Linked DNA regions of Homo sapiens. The protein of the gene in region 1 interacts with the protein of each later gene in a pairwise test. Each region holds a gene or a part of one and is shown on either strand. Other genes may lie near its edges.

Evidence for each region.
Region 2: the proteins of CCHCR1 (region 1) and ZNF774 interact in binary tests that used the Homo sapiens proteins (3 or more experiments, as listed by UniProt).
Region 3: the proteins of CCHCR1 (region 1) and RBM17 interact in binary tests that used the Homo sapiens proteins (3 or more experiments, as listed by UniProt).
Region 4: the proteins of CCHCR1 (region 1) and TADA2A interact in binary tests that used the Homo sapiens proteins (3 or more experiments, as listed by UniProt).

The regions. Positions count from the first base shown.
Region 1 is NC_000006.12:31,147,788-31,154,810, forward strand, and holds part of CCHCR1 (coiled-coil alpha-helical rod protein 1), read right to left. Parts: intron 7,013-7,023; coding exon 6,709-7,012; intron 3,336-6,708; coding exon 3,172-3,335; intron 3,074-3,171; coding exon 2,938-3,073; intron 2,779-2,937; coding exon 2,668-2,778; intron 2,429-2,667; coding exon 2,279-2,428; intron 942-2,278; coding exon 831-941; intron 725-830; coding exon 618-724; intron 1-617. UniProt on the Homo sapiens protein: May be a regulator of keratinocyte proliferation or differentiation.
Region 2 is NC_000015.10:90,347,610-90,355,296, reverse strand, and holds the start of ZNF774 (zinc finger protein 774), read right to left. Parts: upstream 3,014-7,687; 5' UTR 2,886-3,013; intron 656-2,885; 5' UTR 637-655; coding exon 533-636; intron 1-532.
Region 3 is NC_000010.11:6,106,023-6,113,045, forward strand, and holds part of RBM17 (splicing factor 45), read left to right. Parts: intron 1-118; coding exon 119-216; intron 217-2,663; coding exon 2,664-2,720; intron 2,721-3,963; coding exon 3,964-4,105; intron 4,106-6,187; coding exon 6,188-6,339; intron 6,340-7,023. UniProt on the Homo sapiens protein: Splice factor that binds to the single-stranded 3'AG at the exon/intron border and promotes its utilization in the second catalytic step. Involved in the regulation of alternative splicing and the utilization of cryptic splice sites.
Region 4 is NC_000017.11:37,402,804-37,409,894, reverse strand, and holds the start of TADA2A (transcriptional adapter 2-alpha), read right to left. Parts: upstream 3,010-7,091; 5' UTR 2,946-3,009; intron 2,672-2,945; exon of another isoform or gene 2,399-2,671; intron 1-2,398. Other genes in the region: ACACA (acetyl-CoA carboxylase 1), read left to right, coding at 3,596-3,633. UniProt on the Homo sapiens protein: Component of the ATAC complex, a complex with histone acetyltransferase activity on histones H3 and H4. Required for the function of some acidic activation domains, which activate transcription from a distant site. Binds double-stranded DNA.

The DNA.
Region 1 (7,023 bases):
GAAACCCCGTCCCTACTAAAAATGCAAAAATTAGCCGGGTGTAGTGGAGGACACTGGTGGAGGATGCCTGTAATCCAGCTACTCGGGAGGCTGAGGCAGGAGAATCACTTGAACCAGGGAGGTGAGGTTGCAGTGAGCCAAGATTGCGCCATTGCACTCCAGCCTGGGTGACAGAGCGAGACTTTGTCTCAAAATAAATAAATAAATAGACTAAATTTTTCTCCAGTGAAACGGATTGCCCGTAAAATTTTAGAAAAAAAAAGGAAGATGAAGTGTCTACACTCTCCATCCTTGAACAATACTGCAAGTAAAGATCCTCCCGGGTGCTCTATTTAGCTCAAGCCATTACTAGACTGAACTGCAGGAGGAAGCAAGGCCTCACCTCCAGCCAAACATGCAACGGGAAATTCATAACAAGCAATCAGGTATGAATGCAGAAGGGGCTTCCCCAGGAAAAGAAACGAACACAGGAACATTGATAGAGCTAAATCTGCCCAGCCCTGTAGCCTCCAGTGGCCACTTTCCAGCCCCTCTTGCCTGAGGATCCTCAGCAACAAGGTGCCCAGGAACCTGAGGTGGCAGAAACACTACTCCACCCACCCCTCCATCCCTGATACCTGCTGACAGCATTGACCACAAGCCTCAGCTGCTCCTCGGCTGAGGCTGTCTGCTGCTGCCACCGACGCCTGGCCTCCTGAGCACGGCTCAGCTCCAACTGCAGGCCCTGGGGAGGATGCAGCAAAGGACAGGGTCCCTCCCTAAGTCCTGGCTGCAGCCCCGGAACAGGGGCTCCCTTGCCCTCCCCGAGTCTCTAGTAGGCTGACACCAACCTTGGCACCCATACGCTCCACCTCCACCTCTGCGGCTTTGTCCTGCAGGGATCGCTGCAGGATGGCCTGCTCCTGGCTCTGGGATGTCACTTTTTCCTGGAGTGAGGCCACCTGGGGGAGGAGAGAGAGCTAGGCAGGGCCCTCTAGAGCTAAAAGATGAGGGGGGCACTGGAAGCAAAGTGGCAGGTGCAGAGATCTCTGTAAGAATGCCATGCAGGGGCTGGGGGGAGGGGGGGCGGGCGACGGGGGTGGGTTGCAGCACGGTGGCTCACACCTGTAATCCCAGCACTTTGGGAGGCCGAGGCAGATGGATCACTTGAGGTCAGGGGTTCAAGATCAGCCTGACCAACATGGTGAAAGCCTGTCTCTACTAAAAATACAAAAATTAGCTGAGCGTGATGGCATGTGCCTGTAATCCCAGCTACTCGGGAGGCTGAGGCAGGAGAATCACTTGAACCTGGGAGGCGGAGGTTGCAGTGAGCTGAGATCAGGCCACTGCACTCCAGCCTGGTGACAAGAACAAGACTCCTTCTCAAAAAAAAAAAAAAAAAAAAAAGAAAAGAAAAAGAATGAATGCCACGCAGGGAGACAGAAGCTTAGGTTCTGAGGATGGAATCTGAGCCCAGTGTTCCATGTTCCACATTCCATGTGCCCACTCAAAGATGGGAATAGCCCTTGACCCACCCCACAAGACCCACCAACTGACCATGCCACTCTCCTCAGATGCTGTCACCTCCTCAGAGAGGCTGTCTCTGAGCATCCTACCTGAGGCTGACTCACCCCACAGTCTCTCCGTCACATTATCTTTTGAATTTTTCTTACTACTTTCTTTTTTTTTGAGAAAAGATCTCGCTTTGTCACCCAGGCTAGAGTGCAGTGATGGGATCACAGTTCACTGTGGCCTCGCCTCGACCTCCCAGCCTCAGGTGATCCTCCCACCTCATCCTCCAGAGTAGCTGGGACTACAGGAATGAGCCACTATGACCGGCTAATTTTTTGTATTTTTAGTAGAGACGGGATTTCACATGTTGCCCAGGCTGGTCTCGAACTCCTGACCTCCAGTGATCCACCTGCCTCGGTCTCCCAAACTGTTGGCATTACTTGACTGGGCACGGTGGCTCACACCTGTAATCCCATCACTTTGGGAGGCTGAGGCAGGTGAATCACCTGAGGTCAGGAGTTCAAGACCAAAGTGATCGCATTATAGGTGTGAGCCACTGCACCTGGCTTCAATCTTTCTATCGCACATATAATTACCCAACATTATCTGTTTACTTGCGTGTTCTGTGTCTCTGTTCTAGAATGCAAGCTCCACATTTTAGTTTTGTTCAGGGCTGTGTGCCCAGCATGTGGCAACCACTCAATAAACACTGGTTGAATGGATGCCACCTTCATGGAAGGAGCAAGGTGCTGGGAGGGAATACCGGGAGAAAAGAGAGTGCAGTGACCTGTCCCTTCAGCTGCTTAACAGAGTCACTGTGTTCCAGCTCCTGGGCCTTTAGCTGCACCATGAGGGCAAACACCTTCTCCCGCCAGCGGTTCAGCAGGGACTGGCACTTCCTGGTAAACTCAGGCTCCAGGGAATCTGAAGGTTGAACCTGAGGGAGAAGGAGTGGGAGAAAAGTGTGGGCTCCTGGGGGAGGAGAGGAAGGAGGTGGCATCTTTGTTTCTCCTCTGTCCTGCCTGGGCAACATGAGCTACAGCAAGAGGAGTTCACAGGAAGGAGATCTAAGCAGGTTCTGGGGCACATTGACCCCTCCTGCCCACAGGGAGGGAGGCAGGGGACAGTAGATGCAGGATGCGGCTGAGGGTGAGGGGTCTGGGGGTTGGGCTGTACCTTCCTGGTCAGCTCCTCCTCCTGCAGGGCGAGGATGTGTGTGAGGCTCTGCACCCGCACCTGCAGCAGCTCCGCGGTGGCATGCAGGCTGTCCCGGTCCTCCTGCAAGTGCTGCGGGCAGAGGAAAGCAGCCCCTCTGTAGGGCCTCCATGCCGCCTTAGGTACCACCTTCTCTCCCGGAGGCTGTGCTCTACACGCTCCTCCAAGGGCCACGCTTGCCTCCCAACCTGATCCCTAAGTCTGCACACAGATACATTCCTGCACCCTCACCTGCATGGTTTCCAGAAGCTTCTGTCGCTCCAGTTCCCATGTCTGGCTGTGGACCTCAGAAGGCACTTGTTCCCCAACATATTTTCTTAGATTCTCAACCAGGGTCACCTGAGCCTCCAAGTCTTCCTGGGTCTTGCTAGGGTTGGGGTGGGAATGGGACAGCCATCAGTGGGGCGCCCTGCAGATCCACCACATCACTAATTGCTGGGCTCCCGTCGGCGTCCGCCCACCTACCTCAGCTGCTTCCGAAGCAGCTCGGCCTCCCTCTGAGCCTCGGCCAGCTCCTTGGCTTCCCCTGCTCTTCTGGTTTCCAGACTACTCAGAGACTTCTCCAAGCCCTCAGCCTTGCTGGTCAAACTGGAAAGAGCCTCCTCGTGAGCCTGTGTCAAAGAGGACAGCTGCGGAAAGAAGAGGGGGCTCAGCAGAGGCTCGACCCCACATGGAGGCCTTCCTTGTTCCCTTCACTCCCACTTTCTGTGACCTTAGAGAATGACCCAACCAATCAGCCAACTGTGCACAGCAAATGGAGAGCTGGCAACTCACTCTCCGCAGCTGCCCCACAACCCATCAGGAGTTCTTGTCCGATCTCCCCCAAAACATATCTTCACCTCTCTGTCTCCGTCTCCACTGCCACCAACCCTCATCTTTTGCCTGGGCAACAGCGACCATCTCCTAACTAGTCTTTACAAACCCTCAGTGGCTTCTCACAGCATTCACAACAAAACCCAGGTGTCTCTCCACACCTGCAGGCCAGGGGACCCGGCCTCTGCCTACCTCCTGAGCTCACCCTGGAGGCTCTCCCACTGCTCCCCGCTCCGGCCACGGGGAGTCTGCTGAGAACCAGACAGCGGCCCCTCCTTGCTCCACAGACCCCAGGCGATAGCCCCTCCTCAGGGTGGCTTCACTGGGCCCTCTAATACCGTCCCTCCCCACCCTACTCTGCCCCATCAGCTGTTCACGTCCTCCTGAGCACTTAGCACTGACCATATCTTGCTTATGTGTATGTGTTACTATCTGTCGGACCACACTGGAAGGAAAGCTCCAGGAAAGGAGGAATTTTGTGTCTTTTGCTCATGGCACCTCAAAGGGTTGCAGGGGTGTCAGAGCCACCAAGAGTCATGGGATGGACTGGAAAGGAGGGCAAAGTGCCCACCCTGCTTCCTGGTCTGCCTCCTCTAGCCCTGTCTCCATACAACAATAAAATTAATTTGGGGGACATAAATGACAAAATTTTTTAGACATAAAATACAAATCTAATCATGTTATTTCCCTGCTTAAAACCTTTCAACAGGCCGGGCGCAGTGGCTCATTCCTGTAATTCCAGCACTTTGGGAGGCCGAGGTGGGTGGATCACAAGGTCAGGAGATCGAGATCATCCTGGCTAACATGGTGAAACCCCGTCTCTATTAAAATACAAAAAATTAGCTGGGCGTGGTGGCGGGCGCCTGTAGTCCCAGCTACTCGGAAGAATGACTTGAACCCGGGAGGCGGAGCTGGCAGTGAGCCAAGATCGCGCCACTGCACTCCAGCCTGGGCGACAGAGCGAGACTCCATCTCAAAAAAAAAAAAAAAACAACCTTTCAACGGTTGCTTATTACTTGAAAAAACAATTTTTTTTTGTTTGTTTTTTTGGAGATGGAGTTTCACTTTGTTGCCTAGACTGGAGTGCAATGGCACGATCTCAGCTCACTGCAAACGCTGCCTCCCAGGTTCAAGCGATTCTCCTGCCTCACCCTCCTGAGTAGCTGAGATTACAGGCATGAGCCACCACGCCCAGCTAATTTTTGTATTTTTAGTAGAGATGAGGTTTTACCATGTTGGCCAGGCTGGTCTCGAACTCCTGACCTCAAGTGATCCACCCGCCTCAGCTTCCCAAAGTGCTAGGATTACACATGTGAGCAACCATGCCCAGCCCTAATTTCTTCCATAAAATAGAGATGGGGGTCTCGCTTTGTTGCCCAGGCTGGTCTCAAACTCCTGGGCTCAAATGATCCTTCCACCTTGGCCTCCCAAAGTGCTAGGATTACAGGTATGAGCCACTGTGCCCAGCCTGCTCATTGCTCTTATGGGAAAGTAGCAAGTTCTGAAGTGGCCAAAGCCTTGTGCCCTGGGCCCTGGGCTCTGCAGCACACTCAGTGCCCCTCATCTCTGTGCCCCAGCCTTCTGGCCTCCTGTCCCCGCCTTCACCTGTTGTCCCACCAAGTGTCTTCCAGCTACCACTGGACTTCACACGCCTCTTCACTGGCCAACTCCTATTCAGCACAAACGGTAGCTTGTTGTTTTTTTAGTCTCGCTCTGCTGCCCAGGCTGGAGTGTGATGTCAGCTCACTGTAACCTCTGTCTCCCAGGTTCAAGCAATTCTCCTGCCTCAGCCTCCCAAGAAGCTGGGGGATTACAGGCGCCCACGACTATACCCGGCTAATTTTTGTATTTTTTTGTAGAGTTCTTCATGTTGGCCAGGTTGGTCTTTAACTCCTGGCCTCAAGTGATCCGCCCACCTCGGCCTCCCAAAGTGCTGGGATTACAGGCATGAGCCACTGTGCCTGGCCTAGCTTCTTGTTTCTAAGTTTCTTTCATAAATCTCCTTTGTCCATTTTCTGATTGGATTGCTGGTCTTTCCCTTACCAATTTCTAGGCACACATTTTATATTAGGGATATTACCCTTTTCTTGTGATCTGAGCTATAAATATAGCTTTTTTTTTTCTTTTTGGCTATTCCTAATGTTCATGTTATAAAGTCAATGGATCAATTTTTTCCTTTATGGCTTCTAGATTTTGGATTTTGACTCACAGGTAGAAAGGCCTTGCCCACTACAAGGTTATAAAGGAATTCTCCCTTGTTTTCTCCCAGTTCCTTTTTTATTTTATTTTTTGAGACAGAGTCTTGCTCTGTCGCCCAGGCTGGAGTGCAATGGCACAGTCTCGGCTCACTGCAACCTCCACTGCCCAGGTTCAAGTGATTCTCCTGCCTCGGCCTCCCAAGTAGCTGGGATTACAGGTGCGCACCACCACGCCTGGTGAATTTTTGTATTTTTAGTAGAGACAGGGTTTCGCCATGTTGGCCAGGCTGGTCTTGAACTCCTGACCTTGTGATCTGCCTGCTTCGGCCTCCCAAAATGCTGGGATTACAGGCGTGAGCCACTGCGCCCAGGGCTATGGTTTCTTTCCTTGACATGTCAACTGGTTACAGTGGCCTTCCCTGAACCCCAGACTAAGTTAGTGCTTTCTAGTCCTTCTCCTTCAAGGCATTCCTCCTGATTGCAATTAATTATGATTAAATTAAATGTGGATGTGTATATCCCCCACGAGGCTGTCAGTTCCATCCACGAAGGCAGGACTCAGGCTAATTTGGTCACTGAGTCTTAGAGATGGCAAAGAGTAAGTACTGAGTTTGAGGACTGAATAATCTCTCTCTCCCAGTCCACCATAGCCCCCTTATACCCACCTTCCTCACTGCCCTCCACAATACCCCTGATGAATTGGTACCTGGAGTAAAGTAGGGAGGCAAACTATTTCCTACTAGAAAGGGAAGCAGGGCTTCAAGTGGTGGGAGGCCACCTGAGTCTTGGGGGAAAAGTGCAACCTGAATTAAGATAAAAGTACCCAAATTCTCCATCTTTCTAGGCCATGTGTGTTTATTTTCACCAAAGGTCTCATCACTCTACTACTCACTACTCATGGAGGGTCTTTTCTGCAATACCTGTTCTTTGCTTGGAAGCTACTGCCCAGCTCTCCGTTATGAATTTGAATCCTTTCTACCCCTGCATTCACCTGCTCTTGGTGCAGCCTCTGAACCTCTTCCAGCTCCCGCTGGCTCCCCTCTTCCAAGTTCTTCCGGACAACCTCAGCCCCAGCCAAAGCAGCACGCAGGCCCTCAGCCTCAGCTCGGCCGGCCTTCTCCGCCCGTGCCAGAGCCTCTAGCTCCATGGCCTGGGCCTCTAGCCTCATCTTCTGCTGCAGCGAGGTCTCCCGCAGGAGCCGGACCTCCTCCTCCAGCCGCCGCAGCTCTTGCAGCTGCCGAACGATCACCTCAGCCTGCTGGCTCAGGGCCTGTGACCCCTCCAGCCCCCAGGACCTTCAAAGACA
Region 2 (7,687 bases), on another chromosome or scaffold:
AGGACAATAAATAGCAAAGACATTTGCAAACCATAAAATGCATAAGGAAGTAATTGTTTTTCTCCCAAGGAGGCAACAATTAATCTTACAGAGGTCTGGAGCTCTAAGATGCCAACATACCAGAAACTCCTCAGACCTGGGCCCTCTCCAAATATCTAAGTCTCAAATTAAAGGAGAGCAGTGGTCAGGCATGGTGGCGCCCATAATCCTAGCACTTTGGAAGGCGGAGGCCAGTGGATTGCTTGAGCTCAGGAGTTTGAGACCAGCCTGGACAGCATAGTGAGACCAGCCTTGCCAACATAGCAAAATCCTGTCTCTACTAAAAACACAAAAAATTAGCTAGGCATGGTGGCACATGCCTGTGATCGCAGCTACTCAGGAGGTTGAGGTGGGAGAATCGCTTGAGCCCAGGAGGCACAGATTGCAGTGAATCGAGATCGCGCCACTGCACTCCAGCCTGGATGACAGAGCGAGACCCCGTCTCAAAAAAAACAAGATAAATAAATGAAATAAAGGAGAGTAGCATTCTTACCCTTTGAGAGCCCATTCTTCTAACTGTGCTGGGTGGCATTCCTGGAGAGGATTCTCTAAGCAGTGTCCAGGTAACCCACTCTTCCCTGAAGTCCCCAGCCACATTATCAAGCGTCATCAGTTCCTAAAGCAAGAGACCTCAATGTGCATCAGTAGCTCCCTAGATATTCTCACCATTGTCTGAAAGCCAAAAAATGGCCACCAGTGTACACAAACAACCCCCCACACCTGACCAGAATGGTCCTGAGGTAAATTCTGTCAACCACAGAGGGGTGCTTTTCTAAGTCTGTTTTTACATACGTCTTCTCCTGGCCAACTTTCCCATTACTAAGAGAGGCCTAGGCCTCCCAAACACATCGACAGAACCCAGTCTTTTAGACACATTGACTTTTTGAGGAACAAATTGTCCACGATGAACAAGGTAAACAAAGGAGAGAGTTGGCAGGTGTAATTTGATTTCTGGAAAGCTTTTGATTCTCCCCAACTTCATTTTCCTCAGCAAGCAAGGAAATTGTGGCCTTAACTATACTCATATTAGTTATGGGAGCAGCTAACTTCTTGGCTTGCAGATTTGGTGTCAACCTCAAGGGACAGATTATACAGAACCCCAAAGGGAACTGTGTTGGATACCATTCTATTTCAAGATCTTAATGGAGTCAGAAATAAGACTGAAAAAGACATTTTTTTTTTAAAAAAAAGAAGACATGGATAGGTTGTAAAAATAAGTGAAAGTGGGAATAAGCACAAAACACAACTCTTAGGGGCTGAAACCAATCATTAATATATTAATAAATCGACAGCAATATCATGAAAAACATTACTTTTTGGAGGATAGTCAAGAGTGAATTACTGGATGGATCAGTCATTTATTCAACAATTAATATGTTGCCAGGCATAGGAGTCACATAGAAATTAAGATAATGTTTTTTCCCTTAAAAAGTTTCCAATAAACCAGCCTCAGCAACATATTGAGACCTCTTTCTCTACAAAGAACTTTTAAAAATCAGCCAGGCATGGTGGCATGCACTTGTGGTCCCAGCTACTCAGGAGGCTGAAGTGGGAGGATCACTTCAGCCCAGGAGTTCCAGGCTGCAGTGAGCTATGATGGCGCCACTGCACCCCAGCCTAGCAACAGAGTGAGCCCCTGTCTCTCCCTTAAAAAAAAAAAAAATGCAGCCAGCATGACCACCCACTACAAAGAATATTGCATTTCAAGGGAGGAAGGACCAGACTGTGGTGAAGAAGTTTTACTCTTTCACATCTTTTGTCCCACTACAAATCACCTATTTACTACTGGAACACACACACACACACACACACACACACACACACACACACACTTTTGGGGGAAATATTTTTGTATTTACAGACATTATTATTGGTCATTTATAAAGTATTGAGTTTTTAAGGATCTAAAAACCATCTCTCTGGTTTAAAACTTTAACAAACAACAATAATGTAATTAGAAAGTAAAAATTGTAATAAGAGTTTTCAGTATTGGCCAGGTGCTGTGGCTCATGACTGTAATCCCAGCACTTTGGGAAGACGAGACGGGCGGATCACCTGGGGTCAGGAGTTCGAGATCAGCCTGGCCAACATGGTGAAACCCTGTCTCTACTAAGAATACAAAATTAGCCGGGTGTGGTGGCACACGCCTGTAATCCCAACTACTTGGGAGGCTGAGGCAGGAGAATCGCCTGAACCCGGGAGGTGGAGACTGCAGTGAAAGGAGATAGCGCCATTGCATTCCAGCCTGGGCAACAAGAGCGAAATTCCGTCTAAAAAAAAAAAAGAGTTTTGAGTATAATTTTTATTTCTACATTCATTACAAAACACAGCTGCAGGGCCCACTTGCTGGAGACAGCGCCACTGAGGAGGGGAGACGTCTTAGCCACGGTTATAGAAACCCTGTTTCCCAGCCCGTCCCTTTCCCCATGCACAGGTGACCTCAAAGGCCCCACAGCGCTGAGGGGCTGTGACTAAGTGCCACTGTGAGAAGCTCCAGTGCGTTCACCGGGTTTATTAATAGGAACATGACTGCACGCGTGGGGCCGAACCCCGTTCTTCTTCTCGGTGCTCGCGCCCTAACCGGGGTGCGGCGGTCAGAGGGTCACAGATCAGCTGAAACCCTGGGACCACCATCGAGAAGCAAGAAAACTGATTAAGAGAATGACTTATCCCGCCGACGGTATAGAGACCACAGCTACCTCTCCCACAGCCCAGCAAGACCCGGGGGCTCCCAAAGGCCAGCGCGGGAACCCCGCTGAGAAAACGTCTGGGTGGCGGGCAAGCCCCCTCCACGCCCCTCAGCAGCGCGCCGCTGCCGCCGCGGTCTCCCTCCTTGAATCACTCACCGCCCCAGGGCCCAGCCGGGGATGGAGCAGGAAGTGAGTCCTCCACCGCCGAGCCGCACCCGGCCCGCAACCCCGAGGCTGTGCCTCCCAGAACCCGACCGGGATTCGTGACAGGGCTGTGGGGACACAGGTGGGACTCCGGCTTCGACAGCCAGCGGCCGGAAAGTACCGCCCCCATCCTCTTGCTATTGGCTTTTCAGTTTCCATGGCTAGAATTTTTCTCTGTCCATAGGCTGATAGAGCTGTCAATTATCGCCTAGCCTTCTGGGAAACGTAGTCCCGAGCAAGACCTCAAAGGACTCGGAGCCGTGGATGTCCAGTTCCAAGCGTTGGAAAGTGCTAAACCCAATTCCCCAGCTACCGGTCCCCCGGAACCGCCTGTTTGGAGCCGAGGGATCTAAATGCTGTATCCTCACTGTGGCATCTGCAGATGTGAATCTCCTGGCCTCACCCACCTACCGCGGAGCAGCCTGGTGCCCACCATGAGGTCTCCCGCGCTCTGGCACTTCGCCCCTCCCCAGCGCAGAGCAGCTCAGCCCTCGGGCCTTTGCGGCCTCTCTTCTGCCCAGTCTTCCACCTCATCCCCGGCGGCCGGAGCCTGCAGGGTGTTTGCGGAGGCCAGGTCCCAGACCAACTCAAACTGGACATTGGAAAGGCCCAGCAGAAGCCCTTAGTAGAAAACAGACATTCCGCATCCTTCCCTTGGCATCAAACTCCCAGGCACATCCCCTTTCCGTCTGGTTGATAGCCAGAGGAGGCGGGCGAGGGCATCAAGTATTCTGGGAAATGTGATATCGGGCTTCAAACTGGGGAGGCTCCTGGGTCTCATGTGAGAGCCAGTGATCACTTTGGGTCGGCCCCTAGCTAAAAAACAACAAAGTCTTTCCTTAAAGTGAAGAAAATGTGCCTGTCTACTCCGTTTGTTGATTCAGTGCAATTTAGAAAAATAAAAGAACATTTTGTGATGTATTATAAAACGCTTAGAATTACCAGCCATAGAGTTTTTTTTTTTTTTTTTTTTTAGACGGAGTCTCGCTCTGTCGCCCAGGCTAGAGTGCAGTGGCACGATCTCGGCTCACTGCGAGTTCTGCCTCCCAGGTTCACACCATTCTCCTGCCTTAGCCTCCCGAGTAGCTGGGACTACAGGCGCCCGCCACCACACCCGGCTAATTTTTTGTATTTTTAGTAGAGACGGGGTTTCACCATGTTAGCCAGGATGATCTCCATCTCCTGACCTCGTGATCCGCCCGCCTCGGCTTCCTAAAGTGCTGGGATTACAGGCGTGAGCCACCGTGCCCGGCCCGAGTTAATGTTGAAGATCCCTTTGATGCTAATTCCACCATTCCTTCAACAAAAATAAGGTGCATTTTCCAGTGGATATTTATTGGGAACATTCTGTTCTCAAGATCGTTCTGGGGGCAGGGCGTGGTGGCTCACGCCTGTAATCCCAGCACTTTGGGAGGCCGAGGCGGGAGGATCACGAGGTCAGGAGATCGAGACCATCCTGGCTAACATGGTGAAACCCCGTCTCTACTAAATATAGAAAAAATTAGCCGGGCGTGGTGGCGGGCGCCTGTAGTCCCAGCTACTCGGGAGGCTGAGGCAGGAGAATGATGTGAACCCGGGAGGTGGAGCTTGCAGTGAGCCGAGATCGCGCCACTGGACTCCATCCTGAGCGACAGAGCAAGACTCCGTCTCAAAAAAGAAAAAAAGAAAGAAAAAAAAAAAAGATCGTTCTGGGAACTGTGATTACTCGGGAATCATACATAACCATTACCTTCATGAAGTTCACAGGCCAAAAGGGGAAATAAACCATAAAAGGTATCAAAATCCTAAGTAATTTTTTTTTCCATATAGCCAGTGGCATCTTAGTTATTTTGCTACACAATTATAGTCATCTGCAAGGTAACTACATTGCATTTTCGGAAACTCTGTCGACTATGAACAAATGTCTGGTTAGCAGAGGTAGTTAGACGTAGTTAGATTTAGTTAGACGAAATTGAGGAAAATGGAAATCTCAGAGGAGGTCAGTAACAAAGTAACACCCAGGAAACCTAGGGATTGCCAGTCCTCCTGTAACTGGAACAGAGTTCAGGACCTGGAGAACCGAAGGCATCTTCAGACCCCTCGGTAAGTCTTTCTAGCATTTTGCCATTAAGGAGATCATGAAGATTATTCTTCAATCTGGGACTGGAGTGGGGAGATGAATGAAGAGTCACAGAATCTGGCTGGTGGCTATCCCCTGCCGCTCTCTGCAGCTTCTGTTCCTTCTGCCTTACCTTGTTCTCTCGGCGGTTTGTTCACAATGATCAGGTGTGTGGGGAGTAGGGGAAAGGAAGCTTGGTCTCACGAGAAGAGCAGTCAGTACAGGAAACCAATCATGTACCCGCAATGGCCACGTGAAGAGAGGATCATTACCTGTTGAGGGGTTGGGTGCTAAAGGGCGTGGCCGAGAGGAGGCGTAGAAGAGCCAGGAAAAACTGTGAAAGGACTTCAAGGAGCATGAAAAGACAGAAAGACTTCAGCACTTGCTATAACTGAATTTATTTATTTATTTATTTATTTATTTATTTTGAGACAGAGTCTTGCCCTGTCGCCCAGGCTGGAGTGCAATGGCACCATCACAGCTCACTGCAACCTCTGCCTCCTGGCTTCAAGCGATTCTCCTGCCTCAGCCTCCCAAGTAGCTAGGATTACAGGCGTGCACCACCACGCCCGGCTAATTTTTTGTATCTTTAGTAGAGACGGGGGTGTCACCATGTTGGCCAGGCTGGTCTCGAACTCCTGACCTCAGGTGATCCACCCGCCTTGGCCTCCCATAGTGCTGGAACTACAGGCGTGAGCCATCGCACCCTGCCAGAACTGATTTTTTTAAAGAGAGAGTCTATCATTATCTATTGCTGTGTAACAAATTACCCCAAAATTTATTGGTTTAAAAAACCAAATATTTGGTTTTTGTGCTCCCAGCTGTTTGGAAAAGCCGCCGGTATTTCTCCACCTGGCTCTCCTCTACCTCCAGGCAGGCGCACCCGAGGTCCCCCTCCCACCCCACCTTCTGCCCTCCCGCACACTTGGACCAGTGCTGTTGACCCGGAAGCGGACATTTCTGCAGCTATTCTAAGCACACGTCGGCGGAGGGAGCGGGACGTGGCCAGCGGTCAGCGGCGAAGGAGGCAGGCCCTGCGCGGGGATCACGGAAGCCCTGTGATTCACCATGAAGTTCCAGTACAAGGAGGTCCATCCCTTTGAGTATCGGAAAAAGGAAGGAGAAAAGATCCGGAAGAAATATCCGGACAGGGTCCCCTTGATTGTAGAGAAGGCTCCAAAAGCAAGGGTGCCTGATCTGGACAGGAGGAAGTACCTAGTGCCCTCCGACCTTACCGATGGCCAGTTCTACCTTTTAATCCGGAAGAGAATCCACCTGAGACCTGAGGACGCCTTATTCTTCTTTGTCAACAACACTATCCCTCCCACTAGTGCTACCATGGGCCAACTATATGAGGACAGTCATGAGGAAGATGATTTTCTGTATGTGGCCTACAGTAATGAGAGTGTCTATGGGAAATGAGTGGTTGGAAGCCCAGCAGATGGAAGCACCTGGACTTAGGGGTAGGGGAGGGGTGTGTGTGTGACTTGGGGAAAGAGAGGGCGGCTCCCACCGTGAGGAGACAGAAGGTGAAGACATATAGAAACTTTACACCGCACACACCGTCAACGCATTTTCACATGCTCAACTGATATTTTTTGTTGCTTCCTTGGCCCAGGGAGAAAGCATGTCAGGACAGAGCTGTTGGATTGGCTTTGATAGAGGAATGGGGATGATGTAATTTTATGGCATTCCTGAGATTTAATTTTTGTGCAGTTTCATAGAAAGGTCGGTCAGGAGGTGGACAAGTTGGGGTCAGAGATGATGGCAGTCCAGCAGCAACTCCCTGTGCTCCCTTCTCTTTGGGCAGAGATTCTGTTTTTGACAGTTGCACAAGACAGGTAGGGAAAGGGGACTTGTGGTAGTGGGCCATACCTGGGGACGAAAAGAGACCCACTGTAATTGATGCATCGTGGCCCCCGATCTTCCGTATCCCACACTTCTTTTCTCCCATCCCAGTTGCAATCTCACTCACAAACATCACAGTACCACCCCAGGGGCGGCAGTAGACACCAACCCAGAAATTTAGACAGGGATCTCTTATCTTTGGAAAATAGGGGTTAGGCATGAGGGTGGTTATGATTAAGAAGATAATTTTGTTGTTAAATAGCATTAAACTGGAATTGACAGAGTGAGTTGAGCATCTCTGTCTAACCTGCTCTTTCTCTCTGGTGCTCCTCATCTCACCCCTACCTTGGAATTTAATAAGCTTCAGGCATTTCCAATTGCAGACTAAAACCACTTCTACCATCTCCTCTAGTATTTTCCATGTATCAGGACAGAGATGTCTTATGTAGGGAAGGGGCAGGTATGAAGTGAGGTAGATTATCTATACCTCTCACTCATTCAGGATTCTCGCTCCCATGCTGCTGTCCCTTCATTCTCACACTCACAGGAATGCTATGTGATGGCCAGCTGCTTCCCTTCTTGGTTATCCACTGCAGCTGCTAGTTAGAAAGGTTTGCAGGGATGACTTTTAGTAAATCATGGGGATTTTATTGATTTATTATCACTTATAGGATTTTGTGGGGTGGGAGTGGGGAGCAGGAATTGCACTCAGACATGACATTTCAATTCATCTCTGCAAATGAAAAGGGTTCTTCCTCTTGGGGGAAATCTGTGTGTCAGTTCTGTCAGCTGCAAGTTCTTGTGTAAT
Region 3 (7,023 bases), on another chromosome or scaffold:
ACTTCATAGTTGATTGTGACAGGATTTGGATATCTTCTGGTCAAGAGGAAGTCATCCCAGGTTCAGGTCTCTAAATTGGTTCATCTGTGATGAACATTTATTTCCTTTGTTATCACAGAAGGCGTAAAGACAGACATGAAGCAAGTGGGTTTGCAAGGAGACCAGATCCAGATTCTGATGAAGATGAAGATTATGAGCGAGAGAGGAGGAAAAGAAGTAAGGCATGAACAAATATGTCTTAAACATATATAAATACTGGAAGTGCAATTCCACTATGTGCTTTTTCTTTTCAGTTTGATAAATAGTTCATTTGACATTGATTTGGGTAATTTTCTTTCTGGAATCCCAGCAATACACATTTGCGTCACAGTTTTAATTTATATTGGGTTTTCATATGTATTTTCCTTTGAGCTTCACAACCACTTTCTAACATTTATTTATTGGATACTTTGGGACTAGCTTAAAATCTATTCCTGCACTGTCTTTACCTGCAGCACAGTCCAGTTGGCCGATGCTGAATCCACTCTGTTGTTTCTCTTAGGGGGGAAGCATAGTTAACATTGAGTGTGTCTGTTTTGGGCATTGTGACACATTTCATATCCGCTATCTTAGTTAATCCCCAAATGTTTGGTTTTTATTAACTTCTTTTGGAATTCAGTATATAGGTTGAATATTTGTAGGTCTCATTTTTCCAGCTTATAAATTGACTGCCCTTTTTAATAAGGAGGCATGCTTTCCATACTAAGGACATTTGTTTTTTTTTCTTAAACACCAGCAGGAACTAGATAGCTTTGAATGAGAAGACTTTGTTTGACCTTGTAGCTCATGATAGGGAGGTAGTGGCATGCCCATCATATGTATAGTTGTTGACAGATTGATGTTCTTATTTTAATGTGATTAGTAGCAGATTTCCAGTAATCACCCTGAATTTTTTTAACTGAACTTATTAGAGCTAATCTGCTTTTCAGAATCAGTAATCACTCTAGGTCCTAGTGACAAGGTTAGTAAAATGATCATGGAAGTATTTCAAAGGAAATAGAAGAAGGTTTTACTCAGGTTCATATTTCTCCTTGAGGATTTTATATCATCCAGTCCTGTTAATCAAAATGCATGGACACTGGCTTTAGAATAATTTCTAGAATAATTCTTTAGAAGAATGAATTTATTTATTTTTGAGATGGAATCACTCTGTTGCCCAGGCAGGAGTGCAGTGGTGCAATCTCGGCTCACCACAACCTGCAACCTCCTGGGTTCTAGCAATTCTCTTGCCTCGGCCTCCAGAGTAGCTGGGATTACAGGTGTGCGCTACCACGCCCATCTAATTTTTACATTTTTAGTAGAGACAGGGTTTCACCATGTTTGCCAGGCTGGTCTCAAACTCCTGACGTCAAGTGATCCACCCACCTCAGCCTCCCAAAGTCCTGGGATTACAGGTATGAGCCACTGCACCCGGCCTCTTTTTTTTTTTTTTTTTTTTTGGAGACACTCTTGCTCTGTTGCCCAGGCTGGAGTGCAGTGGCGCCATCTCGGCTCACTGCAACCTCCATCTCCTAGTTTCAAATGATTCTTCTGCCTCAGCCTCCCAAGTAGCTGGGATTACAGGTGTGTGCCACCATGCCCAGCTGATTTTTGCATTTTTAGTAGAGATGGGGTTTCACCATGTTGATCAGGCTGGTCTCAAACTCCTAGCCTCAAGTGATTTGCCTGCCTCAGCCTCTCAAAGTGCTGGGATTACAGGAGTGAACCACTGCGTCCAGCCAGAATAATTTCTTTTGTCAAACATTTTGTGCTGATGCAGCATGACTTTGTAATCAATTTTTAAAGTTTTACATTTTGTTTTTATTTCATTGTTGATTAAGCCATAATACATATGTATTATGTAATATTATGTATACGTAATCCATATATGTTAGGACTTATGCCTAATGCAAAATTCCTTGTGGTCTCCACTGATGTTCTCCTTCCAGTTGTCGGATACCAGATAAAAAGATCTGTCTTATCTCTTTTGGTTTGTTTGTGTTCACCATTCGTTGTCCAGGAAATACACCAGGAATAGTGACAACACGCAGCAGTTTCTTCAGGAGCCAGAAGGACCCACGCTTTCAAATATGTGTTTAGTTCCAGTGGTTTGCACACTGGAAAAGGAGCGTGCTGTGTGGTGGGGGAGATATGGCAACGCAGGGAGCTGGGTTTACTCCCTTTCTGTTGATTCACTCCCCTCTGATCATTCTCTTATTTGTAAACTGGATGCAGTAATATCTACTTCAGAGGTCTGTGAAGCCTGAACGAGGCCATGTGTATAAAGGGCCTAATGGGTATTGCTCTCGGTAAATAGTTACATTACTCTCTTTTTAAGTAACTGCTGGTTCTCTTGGTTGTATTGTTTTGCCTTAAAATTCATTTGCAGACTACATTGTGGGGCTCTTGAGTTCCTTTTATGAAGGAACAATTTTGCATATCTGAGGGAGTGTTGCCACTTTTCTACATTTTAAATCCTAGCATCAGAGGTTTGTTCATATGTAGCAGGAGGTCATCTGAAGTAGCAGGTCCTCCTTTTTTAGTTTTTTCTTAGGGGGGTGGGTGATAGATATATGGTGTGTCATAGTCGTTTGGGAGTCTGGCATCGGAAACCTCCTTTAATGCTTGGATTTGTGGTTTTGCAGGTATGGGCGGAGCTGCCATTGCCCCACCCACTTCTCTGGTAGAGAAAGACAAAGAGTGTAAGTAGATCTGTTTCTTCCTCTTTTATTCTGATACAGGTCTTTAACCCAACCATGGGGGATCTCAGCTTGGGCCCCCAGGTTTCCTGAGCGTAGAGGGAAACGGCCTGCAAGCCTGCCTGGCTCTGTCACCTGAGGCCGCACCTGGATCTCAGAATGCAGCGCCCTCCTGCAGAGAGAGACCTTTCTACGCCAGGCTCTGAGGCTTGGATTTCATGCAGTGGGATCCATCTCTTTTTTATGCAATTCACTTTGATTTCATTAACATTTCTTATTTGTTGTTAGATTCATTTGGAGTTAAAACAGCAGATCGTTACAGTTTTTTAACTCAGAGGTTTAGAGGCTGTTATATTCATGATCCTCCACAAGGTGGCAATGCCTTCCTTGATTAGATTTTTTCTTCCCGTTCCATTTCACTGCAGGTGGGTTTGCGTGTCATTGCGTTGCCAAAACACCCTCACCCACTGTTCCTTCTCGCAGTGATCTGCTCTAGAATTTGGGGGTTGGGACTGGACTTCTGAATATCATCTAGGTCATTTTCCCATTCTCTGGATTGGACCATACTTAAACTATCCCAAGCAGATATTCTCATTTATAGTACTTTTTAAAACTTGTTGAATTCTTTATCTTTTAAAGAAGATAATTTCTAAGATATTATGAAATACCTATTATGTGAAAACAACAGACAAACAATAAACCCCAATTGAAACTAGTCTCTGGGAGTGGGGCTCAGGCATCTGGATGGTCTTAAAGCGTCCTACTGACTTTCATCTAACTAGGGTTGAAGCCACCGCTCCAGTGCGTAGCCCCTAACCTCGGACACCTTTGTGGGCCATGAGCTGATGAGATAGTGAGGTCGGGGTCTAGACAGGTGCACCCAAGTTACTGCAGGAGTCAAAAGATGGCCAGATTGTATCTCCTTAGAACATACAGAACATCTTTCCGGCAAGAATATTCATTCAAGAAGATTTTAAAGGGTGAATAACATTTCAGTAAGATATAAAAAAGACGTTTGAGGAGATAGAAATAGCAAAAGGAAAGTTAGAATCAGGAAAGTAGCGTCCTCCCTCTGTGGTTTTAAAAAAAGTCGTATAAAGGCTGTAAAATTGATTTGGTGTTTTTCTCTCCTTGTGGTAAACCAAAAAGTAGGTTAAATTTGTTCAAGATAAATAATTGATACAAGTGAGGTTTCAGAGTGTTTTCTATAGTATTTTGGTGAGCCTACTTTATTTTTCTCCAATAGTACCCCGAGATTTTCCTTATGAAGAGGACTCAAGACCTCGATCACAGTCTTCCAAAGCAGCCATTCCTCCCCCAGTGTACGAGGAACAAGACAGACCGAGATCTCCAACCGGACCTAGCAACTCCTTCCTCGCTAACATGGGGTAATGATTTAATGTTCTTATCTAAGGACTTGAGAGACAGTGTGAAGCGTTGATAGCCCTTTCAATAGATGCAGCTTGTTTGAAACTGAGGACATTCAGGACCCTTGGTGTGTGCAGGTCACACGGTACCTGCCTCAATCGTGTGGAGCGTGTTCCAGTGTAATGATGGGGCTTGTTCAAAACAGCAACCTCCCAGTAGAAGTTTTGACTCATTTTGATGTTGAACATTATTTTCCTAGACAGGCACAGAACCTGATTAATGTTTACATTTGCCTTCATAACGTTTGCAAATAAAATAGCTCATATGAATCAGAGCTGACTTACTGTCTCCAAAGGGCAGGTGATACCTTTTTTTTCCTGATAAAGTGGGCCATTTGCTTTCAGGTCATGGTTCTAAACCTTTGGTCTAAAAAACTCGGGGTCATTCTAACTACAAGTTGACATGTTTGCCAGCATATAAAATTTGACTGTAAGGCTGACGCTCAGGTGGGGCTTGGGGATTTTTTTAAACTGTGCTGGGCTTGGCAAACATTTTGGTTAAGAGGATATTCTGTGTTGTTGACTTTGATCCTGTGAGACGGCTGTCCCATGAAGCAGTATCACATGAAGGCTTTGTTCTGTGCTGTGTTGCATCTGCTGGCTGCTGCCTGTAGCAGAAATGCAGCCGGTGAGACAGTGAGTGGGGTTGAAACTCACTAGTCTCCTTTCAAGTGCTCAGTGACCACATGCAAGTGGTGACGATGTTGGATGGTGCAGACATAGGACATGGCCGTGGCTGCAGGAAGCTTTGTGTACTGGAGGGTTGGACAGACATGAAGCTGGTTTTGTTTTGTTTTGTTTTGTTTTCCCTGTTTATGATAAAAACTGACTTTTTAGCGAATTTGCTTTTAACCAGGAATTACATCTTTAACTTGTGCTTAGGAAAGATGCAAGATGGTACCATTCAGCAGTTTCTGGTCTTTTTAGCCCTAGAATAGCTTGTTCAAATGAAAATGTTAAGGGAATTAAATACAAGAAGTAATGTAGGTGCAGTTCCAGTTGAAGCGGGATTTTGTGGCTTAAGCCCTAAGCAGCAGTGGTCATGGGGTTGGGGTGCCCTTCAGACCCATGCTGCGCCTCAGAGCGCAGTGTGAGAGCCATTTGGTTGTTACAGAAAGCAGTGACTGAGAGTTGTGGGGTCCAGTTTCAGCTCTACCATTAACAGCTGTACAAATAATTTATTTGTTTTCTGAGATGGAGTCTCGCTCTGTCGCCCAGGCTGGAGTGCAGTGGTGCGATCTCGCCTCACTGCAACCTCTGCCTCCCAGGTTCAAGCAGTTCTCCTGCCTCAGCCTGCCAAGTAGCTGGGACTACAGGTGCACACCATCATGCCCAGCTAATTTTTACATTTTTAGTAGAGATGAGGTTTCACCATGTTGGCCAGGCTGGTCTTGAACTCCTGACCTCAGGTGATCCACCCGCCTCGGCTTCCCAAAGTGCTGGGATTATAAGTGTGATCAACTGCACCCAGCCTGTACAAATAATTTCTAATATGGCGTCTTGCATTACTTCTAAGTCCACCCCTTAAGCTAGTCAGCTAATCTTGGCCTCCGTTTATTTCTCATTTGTTAAATAGGTGATCTCTAAGGGTTCTTTCATTTGTATAGTCTGTCATTGGAAACTCTCCTGTGCTATTTAGGAAAATGGGATCATCTTCATTGTACGAAACTTCATACTTACTTTTTGATAGCCACTTTTTAATAAACTGTGGTCATAAGCTATGTGGCAGTGCAGGTCCGGAGCACACAAAAGGTCTTGTGTTTCCTAGCAGGGCACTGAGGAGACTCCACCAGAGAAACTGACATTTCCCCTCCAAGACAACAGGATGTTCTGGATTTTATTCATAGCTTTTTCTATTTCTTTCATGCTGCACATCCCCACAGCTTCCATCTAATAGCCCACTCCTAGTTAATGAGTGACTTTGTTGAAGCCCCTGTGGAGCATGCACTCTCTCCAGAAGGAGGTTGTTGTGATGGAAAAATGCAACCTATCTCCAGTTGACGATGTCAAGGCTAAGAGTCCTTTCCCTTCTTCTCCTGCCAGGGGCACGGTGGCGCACAAGATCATGCAGAAGTACGGCTTCCGGGAGGGCCAGGGTCTGGGGAAGCATGAGCAGGGCCTGAGCACTGCCTTGTCAGTGGAGAAGACCAGCAAGCGTGGCGGCAAGATCATCGTGGGCGACGCCACAGAGAAAGGTGTGTCCCCAGGGAAGCGTGTGACTAGAGGGAAAGGACTGGCCCCATCCATATCAGACATGGCCAGTCTTGATCCTCATGTGTCAGCAGGGGGACAATGAGGCGTGTGGCCAGAGGGAGAGGGCTGGCCCTGCCATCACTAGAACACAGGCCGTCCTGTTCATATGATGCACTGCCACTTCCGTTTTGTGAAACCAGGAATCCTGAGGCTCATCTTTATTTTTTCAGAACAGACGTAGAGAGATGAAGGCTTGTGGAGGAAAAGATGGTGAGAGACTTGGGCAGAAAATGAGTAGTCCTCAGGAAGAAATCTTGGTTATGTGTTTAGAGCATGAAGGACAGAGCCATATAGTGTGGCAGTGAATATACCTGCTATCTCCATCTCAGAGGTCGTCTCTACTTTTCCCTTTTGCCCTTTCAGTATAGATGTGATTTCTGATTCTCTTACAGATTGTTTGCTTTGCGAGATCTGATGTTATGTTGCAGTCTCTTGGTAAATGATGCCTAGTTGGTGTTTTATTTTCATTTAATTTTTACAGTCTGTTCTGTGTTGAGGGAATTCAGGAAAGAGACAAACATATGTTAGCATTTTAATCAGGGAATTAAGTTTGAGTCAGCCTAGCTGAACTTCCTTTGCTAAAGAAAGAAGAAAACTTTTCTGGCAGCCCCGTTCATGCACAGCTT
Region 4 (7,091 bases), on another chromosome or scaffold:
TGAGCCACCATGCCTGGCCCAAAGTATCTTCTTTGAAGCAGAAATAAAATAATATTTTACACTAAGTCAAAAAATAATCCTTCTTCTGTACACTCACAGCTTTTTGTTTTTGTTTTTGTTTTTTTTTGAGACTAAGTCTCGCTCTCGTTGCCTAGGCTGGAATGCAATGGCACGATCTCAGCTCACTGCAACTTCCGCCTCCCGGGTTCAAGCGAGTCTCCTGCCTCAGCCTCCCAATTAGCTGGGATTACAGGCGCGGGCCACCAGGCCTGGCTAATTTTTGTATTTTTAGTAGAGACGGGGTTTCACCATGTTGGCCAGGCTGGTCTCGAACTCCTGACCTCAGGCGATCTGCCCACCTCAGCCTCCCCAAGTGCTGGGATTACAGGCATGAGCCACCGCACCCGGCCCACTCACAGCTTTTTATCTGGCATTTTTCACATTCTACTTTGTGAGTATTACTTCTGAATGTCTATTTTCCCCCACTTCTAAATTAAGTGAAAGCAGGCTGGGTGTGGTAGCTCATGTCTGTAACTCCAGCACTTTGGGAGACTGAGGCAGATGAATCTCCAGAGGTCAGGAGTTTCAGACCAGCCTGGGCAACATAGTGAGAACCCCGTCTCTACCAAAAATACAAAAAAATTTGCTTGGCGTGGTGGCGGGCGCCTATAATCCCAGCTACTCGGGAGGCTGAGGCATGAGAGTTGCTTGAACCAGGCAGGTGGAGGTTGCAGTGAGCCGAGATTGTGCCACTGCACTCCAGCCTGGGCGACAGTGCAAGATCCTGTCTCAAAAATAAATAATAAATAAGTGAAAGCAGAGACTATATCGGATACCTATCTGTATGCTTTTAAAATGCCAAGCATACAGGAGGAATACAATAAACACATAGTAGTGGACTAATAAATGTTAATTCTACAAAAGGTTAATTTATCTTTAGCTTTTCTGAAGTGATTTTTTTCACCCTGGTAATTTTTAGCTTGGAGAATAATTCATCACTAAGTGTGGGCAACATTTCTGCTAACGCTGCCATCAAAGAACTTTCCCTTTTTGGGGTGGGGTAGGTCTCCCTTTGCTGTCCTCTCAGGAAAAGTTGAGCTCTGAAGAAAAATGAGTCTAGCAAGGGTGTATTACGAACGCAGCAATCAAATAACTGCCAAATTTACTGAACTTTTTCAATTTGCTAGGTACCCGTGGGTACCAAGGTGTGGGGATTCTTTGAATCCTCACTCCCACACTTTTGGGGCAAGCTGCTTTTTCAAAAGCAAGCAAGCTCTGAAAGAGTATGTTACTTGCGCAGTGTCTTACAAGGGATAGCTGTGTCATTTCAAATACAGATGTCAAGGCTGGACGCAGTGGCTCACGCCTGTAATCCCAGCACTTTAGCAGGCCGAGGCAGGCAGATCACCTGAAGTCGGCAGTTCGAGATCAGCCTGACCAACATGTAGAAACCCTGTCTCTACTAAAAATACAAAATTAGCTGGGCGTGGTGGCGTATGCCTGTAATCCAGCTACTTGGGAGGCTGAGGCAAGAGAACTGCTTGAACCCGGGAGGTGGAGGTTGCGGTGGGCTGAGAACGCGCTGTTGCACTCTGGCCTGAGCAACAAGTGTGAAACTCCCTCTCAAAAAACAAAAACAAAAACAGACGTCCAGTAAAGGATGCACAGTCAATAGGGACTGATCAACACTCGAAAAAGCACAGTAGGAGGCCGGGTGCGGTGGCTCACGCCTGTAATCTCAGCACTTTGGGAGTCCCAGGTGGGCAGATAACCTGAGGTCAGGAGTTCGAGATCAACCTGGCCAACACAGCGAAACCCCATCTCTACTAAAAATACAAAAAATAGCCAGGTGTGGTGGCGGGCGCCTGTAATCCCAGGTACTCGGGAGGCTGAGGCAGGAGAATCGCTTGAACCTGGGAGGCAGAAGTTGCAGTGTGTTGAGATGGCGCCATTGCACTCCAGCCTGGGCGAAAGAAACGCCATCTCAAAAAATAAAAAAATAGTAGGGCCGGGCGTGGTGGCTCACGCCTGTAATCCCAGCACTTTGGGAGGCCGAGGCGGAAGGATCACTTGAGGTCAGGAGTTCGAGACCAGCCTGGCCAACATGGTGAAACCCCACCTCTGCTGAAAATACAAATATTAGCTGGGCGTGGTGGCCCACGCCTCAGGCACGAGAATCGCTTGAGCCTGGGAGGCGGAGATTGCAGTGAGCCGCGATCGTGCCACTGCACTGCAGTACAGCCTAGGAGAAAAAAAAAAAAAGGCAAAAAAGCACAATATTGCAGTCTGCAGAATCTTCTTTCTCCCCCTTTCACAAGAGACCACATTCTGACACCAACTTCCGTGGAAACACTGGCGCTAGCTCCAAACTAACAATCGCCAAATTCGAATCAGTTACCGGGAGAAGGAAGTGAGGCACTTCGCCGGGCAGGAGTCCACGTTGGGAGGAGGAAAGGCGCAGGCTCCCGAGTTGTGGAGCCAACGTTCAAATCCTTACGGGGTGGGACCGGCCTGGGCCAGTCATTTTACCTGCGCCTCAGCTCTAACAGGGTACTGAAATACCTACTTTGGGGGGCCTGCTAGGAAATTCAAATGGGCAACGCTGGTCAGGGGCATCTGGCACAGTGGCCATTCTTGGTAGAGCTACGCGCTCCAGGGCTGAGCGGGAAATGGCGAGGCCGGGGCACTGGGGCACCGCCCAGACGCGGGGCGGGCCCCCGGGGTCAGGCCCGGCCCCACACCGCCCTCCCCCACAGAGCGGCGAGGCCCGCCGCTGCCCGCCCGCCGGCCCGCCAGCCTGCCGCGTCAAGCCCGCCGCCGGGGCCCGCAGCCCGCGACTCCTCCCCCGCCGCACCTCGTGGCCCCCGCTTCTCCCTAGTCCCGCTAGAGGGGCTCGCGCTCCGCCACCCGCCCGCCCGCCCGCCCAGCGCTGCCTGGCGCCTCACCTCGCCGAGACCCCCTAATCCGCGCCAAAGAGCCGCCGGTCGCGCGCGCCTCCGGGCTTTGCGTGCGCGCCCCCGGGCGGCGCAGTGGCGAGCGCGCCGCGTGCCGCGCGCCCGCCGCCTCCGCCCCTCGGCCGTGGAGGCCCCCGCCGGGTGCTGAGCGCCCGCCACCGCCCTCTTGGCCTTTTCCCGGTCCCCGCCGCGCGCCTGCTGCTGTCCCCGTGCCCGAGGACTGGGAGGATGGGGCTGAGCCGCTTGCCTGACTTTTGATCCGACCAGTAATCACTTTGCCCGTGTGGCGCGTGGCCCGTTGCCTGAGGCTTCCTGGCGCGTGGGGCTGTTTGGTCCCCTCCGGAGTGCGGTGAGGCGGGCCGAGCCGGGACTGCCTGGGTTTGGGGATAACGTTCCCATCTCCACCCCTGTTGCAGCAAGGGAAATTGAGGCTGAGGGAACTGGGCCCAGGGACGGCGAGCCGTGGCGCCTCTCCAGTCCGGGCCCCGAAGGGCTGCTCGTGGATGAACCAGACTGATTTTAAGGGGTGAAGAGGGTGCGTTTCAATCAGATGCTCCTGGAACGTCGAAATTGTCTTCTTTGGAAAGAACCATCCCCTCTTTGGGCTTCAGAGGCCCAAATTGAGGCGCAATGATGAGAGGATGTGGTGGTCTACTCTGATGTCAATCTTGAGGGCTAGGTATGTCCCAAGATCTCTTATTACTGCTGTTAATGATGATTCTAATAGCTACCATTTGTCGAGTACTTATTGCATGCCAGACATTGCACAAAGCAGGTTACACATACGGTCTCATTTAAAACTTGTGAGGTAGGCACCTGTTGTTATCCCTATTTTCCAGGTGAAGAAATCTAGGCACTGACATAAATAACTTGGGATCACACTGCTAGGAAGTACTGGGGAAGGGAATTCAAACCATGGTTTATCTGAACTATATAACTGTTACATCTATTTAGAAGTCTGCCTTTGATAAATTTGCCCAACCTTTTTTTAGAATTCACTTACACTTTATGCCTGTGTGAACCCTTTCATTCTTTTTTGGTATATGCATAATACAAGTTCATTCCAAAAAAAAAAAAAAAAAAAAGCCCTGCCGGGCGCGGTGGCTCACGCCTGTAATTCCAGCACTTTGGCAGGCCGAGGCGGGCGGATCACAGGGTCTGGAGTTCTAGACCAGCCTGACCAACATGGTGAAATCCCGTCTCTACTAAAAATACAAAAAATTACGCGGGTGTGGTGGCAGGCACCTGTAATCCCAGCTACTCCGGAGGCTGAGGCAGTAGAATCGCTTGAACCCTGGGGGCAGAGGTTACAATGAGCCAAGATCTTGCCATTCCACTCCAGCCTGGGCAACGAGAGCGAAACTCTGTCTCAAAAAGAAAAGAAAAGGAAAGAAAAACCACCTCCCACCAGGTTAAATAAATAATTAACATTTTGGTATGTACCCTTCCAGACATTTTCCTATGCATCACATCAATAAATATATGATAGGATATTTTACATTTGATGTATCCTGAAGATTAATTCAACAAATGTTTAGTGAGTAGGCTTGTTGTAGGTGCTGGGAATTCAGCAGTGAACAAAACAAAGTCTCTGCCTCATGGAGCTCATATTATAGTAGGGAAGACTGTCAATAAGCAATATACACATTACTAAATGATAGATAATGCCCAGTAATGTGGCAAGTTTTATGGAAAAATAAATCAGGATAAAAGGATAAGAGTGATATGGGGATTCTCTTAGTTAGGGTAGATAAGGAAGGCCTCTTAGCTAAGGAGGCACATAAATATCTGATCATTTAATGAGAGAAGGAGCAACATGGATTTCTAGAGGGAAACTATCCTAGAAGAGAAGCAGCAAGTGCAGTGACCCTGAAATGGGGATTTGTTTGGCATGGAGAAAGGGCAAGACCAGTGTGGCTGGAGCACAGCAAATGAGAGAAATTAGATGGAAATCAAGGCAGATCATGTATCATCTGGTAAGGTTTGGATTTTATTGGGAAGTGACAGAATATGACGAAGGGTTGAGAGCAAAGGAGTAGCTTTGCTGTAAAAGGATCACTGTGGGCTGGGAGCGGTGGCTCACACCTGTAATCCCATCACTTTGGGAGGCCGAGGCAGGCGGATCACTTGAGGTTAGAAGTTCGAGACCAGCCTGGTCAACATGGTGAAACCTCATCTCTACTAAAAATACAAAAAAAATTAGCTGGGCATTGTGACGGGCGCCTGTAATCCCAGCTACTCGGGAGGCTGAGGTAGGAGAATCACTTGAACCTGGGAGGTGGAGGTTGCAGTGAGCCAAGATTGTGCCACTACACTCAAGCCTGGGCAACAGAGTGAAACTGCATCTCAAAAAAAAAAAAAAAAAAAAAATCACTGTGGCAGCTGTGTGGAGAATGGATGGTAGAAATATTAAAATTGCCCTTTGCCTGGTGAAGTGGTGTGTACCTGTAATCCCAGCTACTCGAGAGACTGAGGCAGGAGGATGGATTGAGCCCAAGTTTGAGACCAGTCTAGGCAACGTATCGAGACCCCCATCTCTAAAAAAATTTTAAATTGCTCTCTAAGGCATAAATTGTCCTTTTACATGGTAGTTGTTCAACAGATAGTTGATTAACATTAGTGTTTCACCTATAGCTGTACAGCTTTACAACCACTCTCAACTTCACATAGTGGAAGTGGGGTCAGTCATTTAGGACATATCTGTGTCTTTGTCATTGAAACTCAAATTTTGAGACTGGCTAAGGCAAATATCCAGATCTGGATGTCATGATTGTCAACAATGAATATCAGTAATCAGTGTTGTAATACTGTAGAAAAATTAGTCCCACATAATACTGAGATCTAGTCGTTAAAAACATAGCATTCAGGGGCCAGGCACAGTGGCTCATTCCTGTAATCCCAGCAGTTTGGGAGGCCAAGGCAGATGGATCATTTGAGGCCAGTAGTTCAAGATCAGCCTGGGCAACATGGCGAAAACCCATCTCTGCTAAAAATGCAACAATTAGCTGGGTGTGGTGGCGCATGCCTGTAATCCCAGCTTCTTGGGAGGCGCAAGAATTGCTTGAACCCTGGAGGTGGAGGTTGCAGTGAGCTGAAATCGCACCACTGCCCTCCAGCCTGTTCAACAGAGCAAGAGTCTGTCTCAAAAACAAAAAAACAAAAATCATAGCATTCAACTACCTGGAAATTACCCTCTCCCTTCAGTTGATGTTAGGCTCTACTTAGACCAATTTAGTCAGTGTGCTTAAGAAAGATGTGGAGAGGGCAGGACACGGTGCCTCACACCTGGGATCCCTGCATTTTGGGAAGCCAAGGTAGGCAGATCACTTGAGTTCAGGAGTTCAAGGAGGCATGAGAACTGGGCAACATGGTGAAACTTCGTCTCTACAAAAATTGCAAAAATTAGCCAGGTGTAGTGGCGCATGCCTGTAGTCCCAGCTACTTAGGAGGCTGAGGTGAGAGGATCACTTCAGCCCAGAGGGTTGAGGCTGCATTGACCCAGTATCACACCACTGCACTCCAGCCTAGGTGACAGAGTGAGACACTGTACCAAAAAAAAAAAAAAAAAAAAAGATGTGGCAAAATTAACATGCACAGTGAGAAGAAGGGTAACACTGATTACTGATTAAGGCAGTACTCCTCTGGGTTTTTGTCTTAAGTGGATGTGATAGTGGCATCACTTACACGACCAGCTGAAGGAAGAATAGATTTGGAGGAGAAATTGAAAGTTCTGTTTTGGATCTGTGTTTTGCATTCTGACTGGAAATGACAAATACAAGTCTACAGCTCATTGGAGGTGTCAGAACTAAAACTGTATAACTGTATTAGAATTGTTTATTTGGCTGTGTGTCTTACCTAGACAGACCTTGAGGACAGACACTGTTGTCTTTGTAACCTCAGTGCTCTGAAGTGTATCCTCAAATACTTGTGAAATGAGTAAGTAAAGGCAAAAGTAAAAATGAAGTCACTGGCTGGGTGCAGTGGCTCACGCCTGTAATCCCAGCACTTTGGGAGGCTGAGGCGGGCGGATCACGAGGTCAGGAGATCGAGACCATCCTGGCTAACATGGTGAAACCCCATCTCAACTAAAAATACAAAAAATTAGCCGGGCGTGGTGGTGGGCGCCTGTAGTCCCAG